Homo sapiens: one gene and its partner. The protein of the gene in region 1 purifies or fractionates together with the protein of each later gene. This does not show direct contact. Each region holds a gene or a part of one and is shown on either strand. Other genes may lie near its edges.

Evidence for each region. The genes of interacting proteins can lie anywhere in the genome.
Region 2: the proteins of C10orf53 (region 1) and CA6 purify together in Homo sapiens (affinity purification with mass spectrometry; one large-scale study listed by BioGRID and IntAct). This does not show direct contact.

What each region holds. Positions count from the first base shown.
Region 1 is NC_000010.11:49,685,981-49,689,686, reverse strand, and holds part of C10orf53 (UPF0728 protein C10orf53), read right to left. Parts: intron 1-3,706.
Region 2 is NC_000001.11:8,955,773-8,959,478, forward strand, and holds part of CA6 (carbonic anhydrase 6 isoform 1 precursor), read left to right. Parts: intron 1-1,364; coding exon 1,365-1,513; intron 1,514-3,137; coding exon 3,138-3,230; intron 3,231-3,706. UniProt on the Homo sapiens protein: Reversible hydration of carbon dioxide. Its role in saliva is unknown.

The DNA of each region.
Region 1 (3,706 bases):
ATTCTTCTTCAGCGCTGTGTAGGATTTTACATGATGTACGCACTACAATTTATTTACCCATTCCTTTTTCTGATTGTTTCCAATTTTTCGCTATCGCTGAGAATGTTGTAGAAAACATTCACAGCATGCATCCTAGTGCGTGTGTGAGGTTTGTTTTTTCTTTTATAAGGAAGATATTGAGAAATGGAACAGCTGGATTCTACAGTATATGATCACATTTTAACAGACACTGCCAAGTTGTCCTCTAAAGGTGACAGTTCAATTTACTCTCCCGCCGAGGGTAAATTAGGAAAATACTTTTTTTCTCAGTCTTTCATCAGCCATGAATTCTTCTCTCCTAGAAATCACCTCTACTCAATAGTTTGGAGCCCACTGGTAATTTTCTTCCTGAAATGCCATCGCTTGCCCCCTTATGCCTCCAGTTCTCTCCTCCCTCTGCCCCTGCTCCTCCACAGGCTGCTCCTCTTAACACACCCTGCCCTCGGGGGGCTGTCTCATCATCCTGCCATCTCCAGTCCTGTCTTTCCTTGCTTCCTCCGCAGTCTTGCCTCCTGTGGTTCTAGCATTCGGCTTTACGCAGGTTGATTTTCTTAACTAATGTTTATTCTTACAATATGCCAGGCACAGCTCTGGGCTGGGACCCAGCAGAGAACAGAACCAGAAAAGAACTCCTGCCCCTTCCCTCCTCAAAGCATGCCTCCAAGTGGGGGAGAAGGGTAACAAGGTATACAGGTGAGTGCGTGCTGAGGTAGGTAATTACGAGCAAGAAGAAGAAATAAGGAGGGAAGGGAGATCAGGAAGAGGGAGGCAGAGGGAAGTGTTGACATTTTTGTTGGGATGCCCAAGGAAGGCCTGCCCATGAAGGTGACTTTTGAGGAATATCTTGAGACTGAGAGAATGAAGCTGAAGACCACGTAGGAAAGAGCGTTCCAGGCGGAGCGGCTGTGAAGCCCTGAGGTGGGAGCTGGCTAGGATCATTGAAGGACTGCAGGAGGTGGCTGTGGCTGCAGCAGCGGGCCAGGGAGAGGATAGGCAGAAGCAGGAGGGGGTGAGATGAGGGGGTGAGATCAGGGGGGCCATAAGGAGCCTAGAGGGCCATGTGAGCCTTTGGCTTCTCCCCTGAGTGAGCTGGGGGCCCCTGGAATGTTCTCAGGGGTAAAGGTCATGCTGTTTCATGTGATTCAGGTTTACCGGTATCAGCTGGCTGTGTTACTGAGAACAAACTGCAAGCAGATGAGGGTTGCAGGGAAGTCAGGAGGCCAGGGCAGTAATCCAGGCAGGAGATGATGGCGGGTGGACAAAAAATGCAGAGGGGGTAGTCAGGAGGCCTAAGAGGGATTAATTCTGGGCGTACTTTGAGGGCAGAGCTGACAAATTGTGTTGACAGACTAAACAGGGAGTGTAAGGGAAAGAGGAGTGAGAGGTGCCTGCAGGGTGTCTGGCCTGAGAAACTGCAAGATGGAGCTGCTGTGAGCAGTGGAGAGGGAAAGTGGGCAGAGCTGCTGGTGGGGGTGAGTGCTAGGGGTCTAGCTGGAAATTTGGGGCATACTAAGTCTGAGATGCCTACTCAACATGGCAGTGGCTACGAGAGGTCCTGATTAAAGACATAAATTTGGAAGTTCATCGCATATAAATGTCATTTAAAGTCATAGCTACTCCTGACTCAAATCTCCTGCCTTCATCTTTCTTCCAAACTCCAGAACGTAATTTCCAGCCACTGGCTTAATATTTCTTAATAGTTCATTCCACCCCACACCCTGCCATTTCTCCTTCTTAAATTTCTTCTTCCAAAATTGGACTCTTAAGGTACATCCCAGATCTCATCATCCTTTAGCTCAAGAACCTTCACTGGCTTCCTGTTGCCAAGGATGAGACAGGCTGGACTCTCCTGTTGCACATCCTCCTCCAACCAGACCCAATAGCCTGCTGCTCCCCAGAAGTGCCCAGGTTGCCTGCACCTCCCCTTCGCAATGAGCCTTCCTCAGGAACAATAAGAACTAACGCTTGCAGAGCCCTGACTGTGTGTACGCATGGAGTTAATTACTTTACATGCACTTGCTCATCAGAATCTCACATTGGTGAGGCAGGGATTCACATTCCTCTGTTACCAACAAGGAAACTGAGGCTCATAAAGGTAAAACCACTTGATTTTCACCTTGACTGCAAAGCTACTAAATGGTGGAGCCCAATTCAAACCATATGTGTTGACTTCAGAGCCCTTGTGCTTATCCTCTGCTCATGCCATCTCCCTGCCAGAAGTGCCAAAAATGTAGGCAGGAGATAAGTGACCAGGGAGAGGTGACAACTAAAGCTGACATGATTTGTGGACAAACTAGATGGGGAGTTTCCCCCCCAATACTGATAAGTTGTGTATTATAACAAAATGTTCATTTATGCATCCTGCTTTAATAAAATTTTTGGTATGTAAATGATCTAATGGAACTCCTACAATCATGCTGGTTGTGGCAGGAGCAAGGAACTTATGTCAGCAAAACAGCAGAGCAGACAGCTCCAAACTCCCATTCCTCTGCAGATACATAAAAAACAAAACAAAACCCAGAAACAGTCAGAACCAACATTGTCAAAACTCTGGAAAACAGTCAAAGGTCTACAGCAACCAAGTGAATACTGAATCAAAGAAAAGGCAACTTTAAAATGGTAGGAAAGCTTTGTGGCATGTTTGCCTGCCCTTGCCTCACCTTTTCTCTGACCTGGTGGCAGTCTTGAAGATAGCAGCCTGTGTTCCCAGTATGGGACTCTGGTTCTTGATTCCAGAGGGAGGTGTACCAACAGGGAGTAGGTCACAAGGACCACATGCTTCAAAGGGCAATAAAGATCACAGGGCAAGGCAAAATTAGGATTACTGATGAGAGTCTATGTCCCGCTGTGCACTCATTGTCTTGATAAGCATCTTAACAGGAAACAGGGTTCGAGAGCAGACAACCGGTCTGACTAGAATTTACCAGGCTGGAATTTCTCAATCCTAGTAAGCCTGAGGGTACTGCAAGAGACCAGGGCGTATTTCAGTCCTTATCTCAACCGCATAAGACAGATACTCCTAGAGCAGCCATCTATAGACCTACCCCCTGGAATGCATTCCTTTCCCAGGTTCTCAATTATTAATATTCCTTGCTGGGAAAAGAATTCAGCGATATTTCTCCTACTCACACGTCTGTCTACAGGCTTTCTGCAAGAAGAAAAATACGGCTGTATTCTGCCCGACCCCGCAGGCAGACCTCCTGTTTATCTTCCCTCATTCCCTGAAAATCACTGTTATTCTGTTCTTTTTCAGGGTGCACTGATTTCATATTGTTCAAACACACATATTTTACAATCAATTTGTAAAATAGTGGTCCTGAGGTGACGTACATTCTCAGTTTATGAAGATAACAGGATTAAGAGATTAAAGTAAAGACAGGCATAAGAAATTATAAGAGTATTGATTGGGGAAGTGATAAATGTCCATGAAATCTTCACAATTTATTTTCAGAGACTGCAGTAAAGACAGGTGTAAGAAATTATAAAAGTATTAATTTTGGGAACTGATAAATGTCCATGACATCTTCACAATTTATGTTCTTCTGCCTCAGCTCCAGCTGGTCCCTCTGTTCAGGGTCTCTGACTTCCTGCAACAACCCAGTCTGAGGAGTAGAAAGGAAAAAGAATGAAGAAAAATGAACAGCCCTGGAGACCTGTGGGATGCCCT
Region 2 (3,706 bases), on another chromosome or scaffold:
GCATTATAGCACATTACGTTATGAATTTAATCATAGCTCCCCGCTCCTTTAGACAATTTGGAAAGAAAGAGGGGGCACGTGACAGGTTTTAAATACCTCATATTTGCTATCTTTTAAGAAAATGTTCTTGTTTACAGCCACCATTGATGACTTTAAATAGGAAGATCTTGCCAGGCGCAGTGGCTCGCGCCTATAATCCCAGCACTCTGGGAGGCTGAGGAGGTTGGATCACTTGAGGTCAGGAGTTCGAGACCAGCCTGGCCAATATGGTGAAACCCTGTCTCTACTAAAAATACAAAAATTAGCCGGGCATGGTGGCATATGCCTGTAATCCCAGCTACTGGGGAGGCTGAGGCAGGAGAATTGCTTGAACCCAGGAGGCGGAGGTTGCAGTGAGCCTAGATCATGCCACTGCACTCCAGCCTGGGTGACAGAGTAAGACTCTGTCTCAAAATAAATAAATAGGAAGATCTTGCTCATGAGACACATGCTGCCTTTCCAACGCCGAAATTATATCCTCATAGATATTTTTCTTAGTCACTTTTCTTAGTAACTGAGCCCGTTTTTTTCTTTTTGTGTAGTTCATTCCAAAAGGCAGAGATTTCAGCTGGGCGTGGTGGCTCATGCCTGTAATCCCAACACTTTGGGAGGCTGAGGCAGGTGGATCACTTGAGGTCAGGAGTTCGAGACCAGCGTAACCAATATGGTGAAACACTGTCTCTACTAAAAACACAAAAATTAGCCAGGCATGGTGGCGGGCACCTGTAGTTCCAGCTACTCGGGAGGCTGAGGTGATAGGATCCCTTGAAGCCAGGAGTTGGAGGCTGCAGTGAGTTGCTGCAGCAAGTCATCGTGGTGCCACTGCACTCCAGCCTGAGCAACAGAGTGAGCATGAAAAAAAACAAAGAAAAGAAAACAGTTCTAAGAGGCCCCACTTCCTATTCTTATACCTTCGGCAAATTCCAAACTTGGCCAGAGATAGAGAGTAGAATTCTAGTTTCCAAGCCCATTGGCCATAATTTTTCAGGACCTTCCCTTTCCCTGGGGCCAGCAAGCTGGACCTGCCACTGTGTGGTCCTGCCTCTGGCCTGTTGGTTCTGGGCGGGAAGGAGCGTGCTGGGGAGAGGCACTTGCCCAGCCTGGTTTACTTAGTGCCTGGCCTCCATCCTGACCTCACCCTGTGCCCTGTGCGCAAACGCCTCTTCTCCTTTGGTGACCCTGCCCATGGCATTCTAAGCCAGTCTATGGTATTGGCTTGCCCTGGGCTCAGACAGGTGGGAGGTGAGCAGAGAAGCTACCCAGCCTGTAGGCCTGACCCCTCTGTGTTCACCTACTCTGCTCTCAGCCCCACCTTGTCTCTCCAGTGCAGATCAGCCTGCCCTCCACCATGCGCATGACAGTGGCTGACGGCACTGTATACATAGCCCAGCAGATGCACTTTCACTGGGGAGGTGCGTCCTCGGAGATCAGCGGCTCTGAGCACACCGTGGACGGGATCAGACATGTGATCGAGGTACCTGAGGACCCCCACTGTGTCCTCTTTCCTTTGAACCCCATAGTCACTTTTCTTTTTATTTATTTATTTTGAGACAGAGTCTCGCTCTGTTGCCCCGGCTGGAGTGCAGTGGCACAATCTCAGCTCACTGCAACCTCCGCCTTCTGGGTTCAAGCAATTCTCCTGCCTTAGTCTCCCGAGTAAATGGGATTACAGGCACCCGCCACCATGCCCTACTAAGTTTTGTATTTTTAGTAGAGACGGGATTTCACCATTTTGGCCAGGCTGGTCTCGAACTCTTGACTTCAGGTGATCCACCCGCCTTGGCCTCCCAAAGTGCTGGGATTATAGGCGTGAGCCACAGTGCCCAGCCGTCACTTTTCTTATTAAAATAGCCAAGGCCAGGTGCACTGGCTCACGCCTGTAATTCCATCACTTTGGGAGGCCAAGGCAGGGGAATTGCTTGAGCCCAGGAGTTGTAGATCAGCCTGGGCAATGTAGCGAGATCTTGTGTCTACAAAAAAAAAAAAAAAAAAAAAAATTAGCCAGGAGTGGTGGTACACGCCTATAGTTCCAGCTTCTGAGGAGGCTGAGGTGGGAGGATCGCTTGAGGCCAGCAGGCTGAGGCTGCAGTAAGTCCTGATCATGCCGCTGCACTCCAGTCTGAGCAACAAAACAAACAAACAAAAACAGCCAAAAGACTGTGCGATGGTAGCAGTTAAGTCATGCTGAAGTTGAGTTTATTTTTTATTCACTCAGCAACTATTGACAGATCACCACTTTGTGACAGGGGTTCAGGCAAGGTCCTGCCCTCACAGGACTCAGGTTGGCAGGACTTCACAGCCCACAGGGTGTGGCAAGCCCTCCTTTGTTTCAGCTGGATTTCTATGTGTTAGATTTTCTTTTTTTTTGTTTCTTGAGACAGAGTTTTGCTCTTTTGCCCAGGCTGGAGTGAAGTGGCATGATCTTGGCTCACTGCAACCTCCGTTCCCTGGGTTCAAATGATTCTCCTGCCTCACCCACCCGAGAAGCTGGGATTACAGGCACCTGCCACCATGGCCGGCTAATTTTTGTACTTTTAGTAGAGACGGGGTTTCGCCATGTTGGTCAGGCTGGTCTCAAACTCCTGACCTCAAGTGATCCACCCGCCTCGGCCTCCCAAAGTGCTGGGATTACAGGCATGAGCCACTGTGCCTGGACTGTGTTAGATTTTCTGAGTTACCTCTTTTGCCAGAATCCATCCATAGGATGACTACATGTTAACAATGGTTGCCTGGGACAAGGGGCGCAAGCTCACTCTCCCTGCAAAGCCCCCAGACACTCCAGGAGAACCCACTGTCCTCATGTGATCCCTTCAGACTCTGCCAGCTTGTCTGCCTGGAGGGAGGTGTGGTCGGGAAATGGCCTCGAACTGCCATCTTCCAGAATCCCACTCTTGCTCTTTCCATTCTTGGGGAAGTTTCTGCTCTTGATAGATAGGAATTGCAGCCCAGATGGAGAGAGATGGAGGTCCAAGTTGCTTGTGTGGAACAGTCTGAGGCCTCAGACGGAGCACCTTTCTTTCTCTTCCTCCTTCCCTGGAAATCTTAAGCATTTGAATTTCTATGAACTGCCCTTGACCCACTCTACCTTGCTCTTACAGATTCACATTGTTCACTACAATTCTAAATACAAGAGCTATGATATAGCCCAAGATGCGCCGGATGGTTTGGCTGTACTGGCAGCCTTCGTTGAGGTAAGCAGAAACTACCCATGTGTGTCTGTATTTGAAGTTATAGGTTGATGTCCAAACAAGGTGTGAAGTCTAGTTGAACAGTCTTCTTTATTATCACTCTTCATCTTTTCCTGAGCTCACAGTTCTTGGAAACATTGACTCGATGGAAGATCACTGTGCTCCTTCCGTGCTGTCAATCTCCGGACCTTGGTTAACGTGGACAAGCTGACTTAAAAGAGCTGGAATCCCAGAGGGGTTGCGTAGACACAAATTGTTCGAAGGGCAAGGGGAAACCTGCAACTCAGTCAGACAAAGGCAACACCTCTGCATTTCCTTTTTTTTTTTTTTTTGAGACGAAGTTTCACTCTTGTCACCCAGGTTGGAGTGCAGTGGCACAATCTCGGCTCACTGCAATCTCCACCTCCCAGGTTCAAATGATTCTCCTGCCTCAGCCTCCCAAGTAGCTGGGATTACAGGCACCTGCCACCACGTCTGGC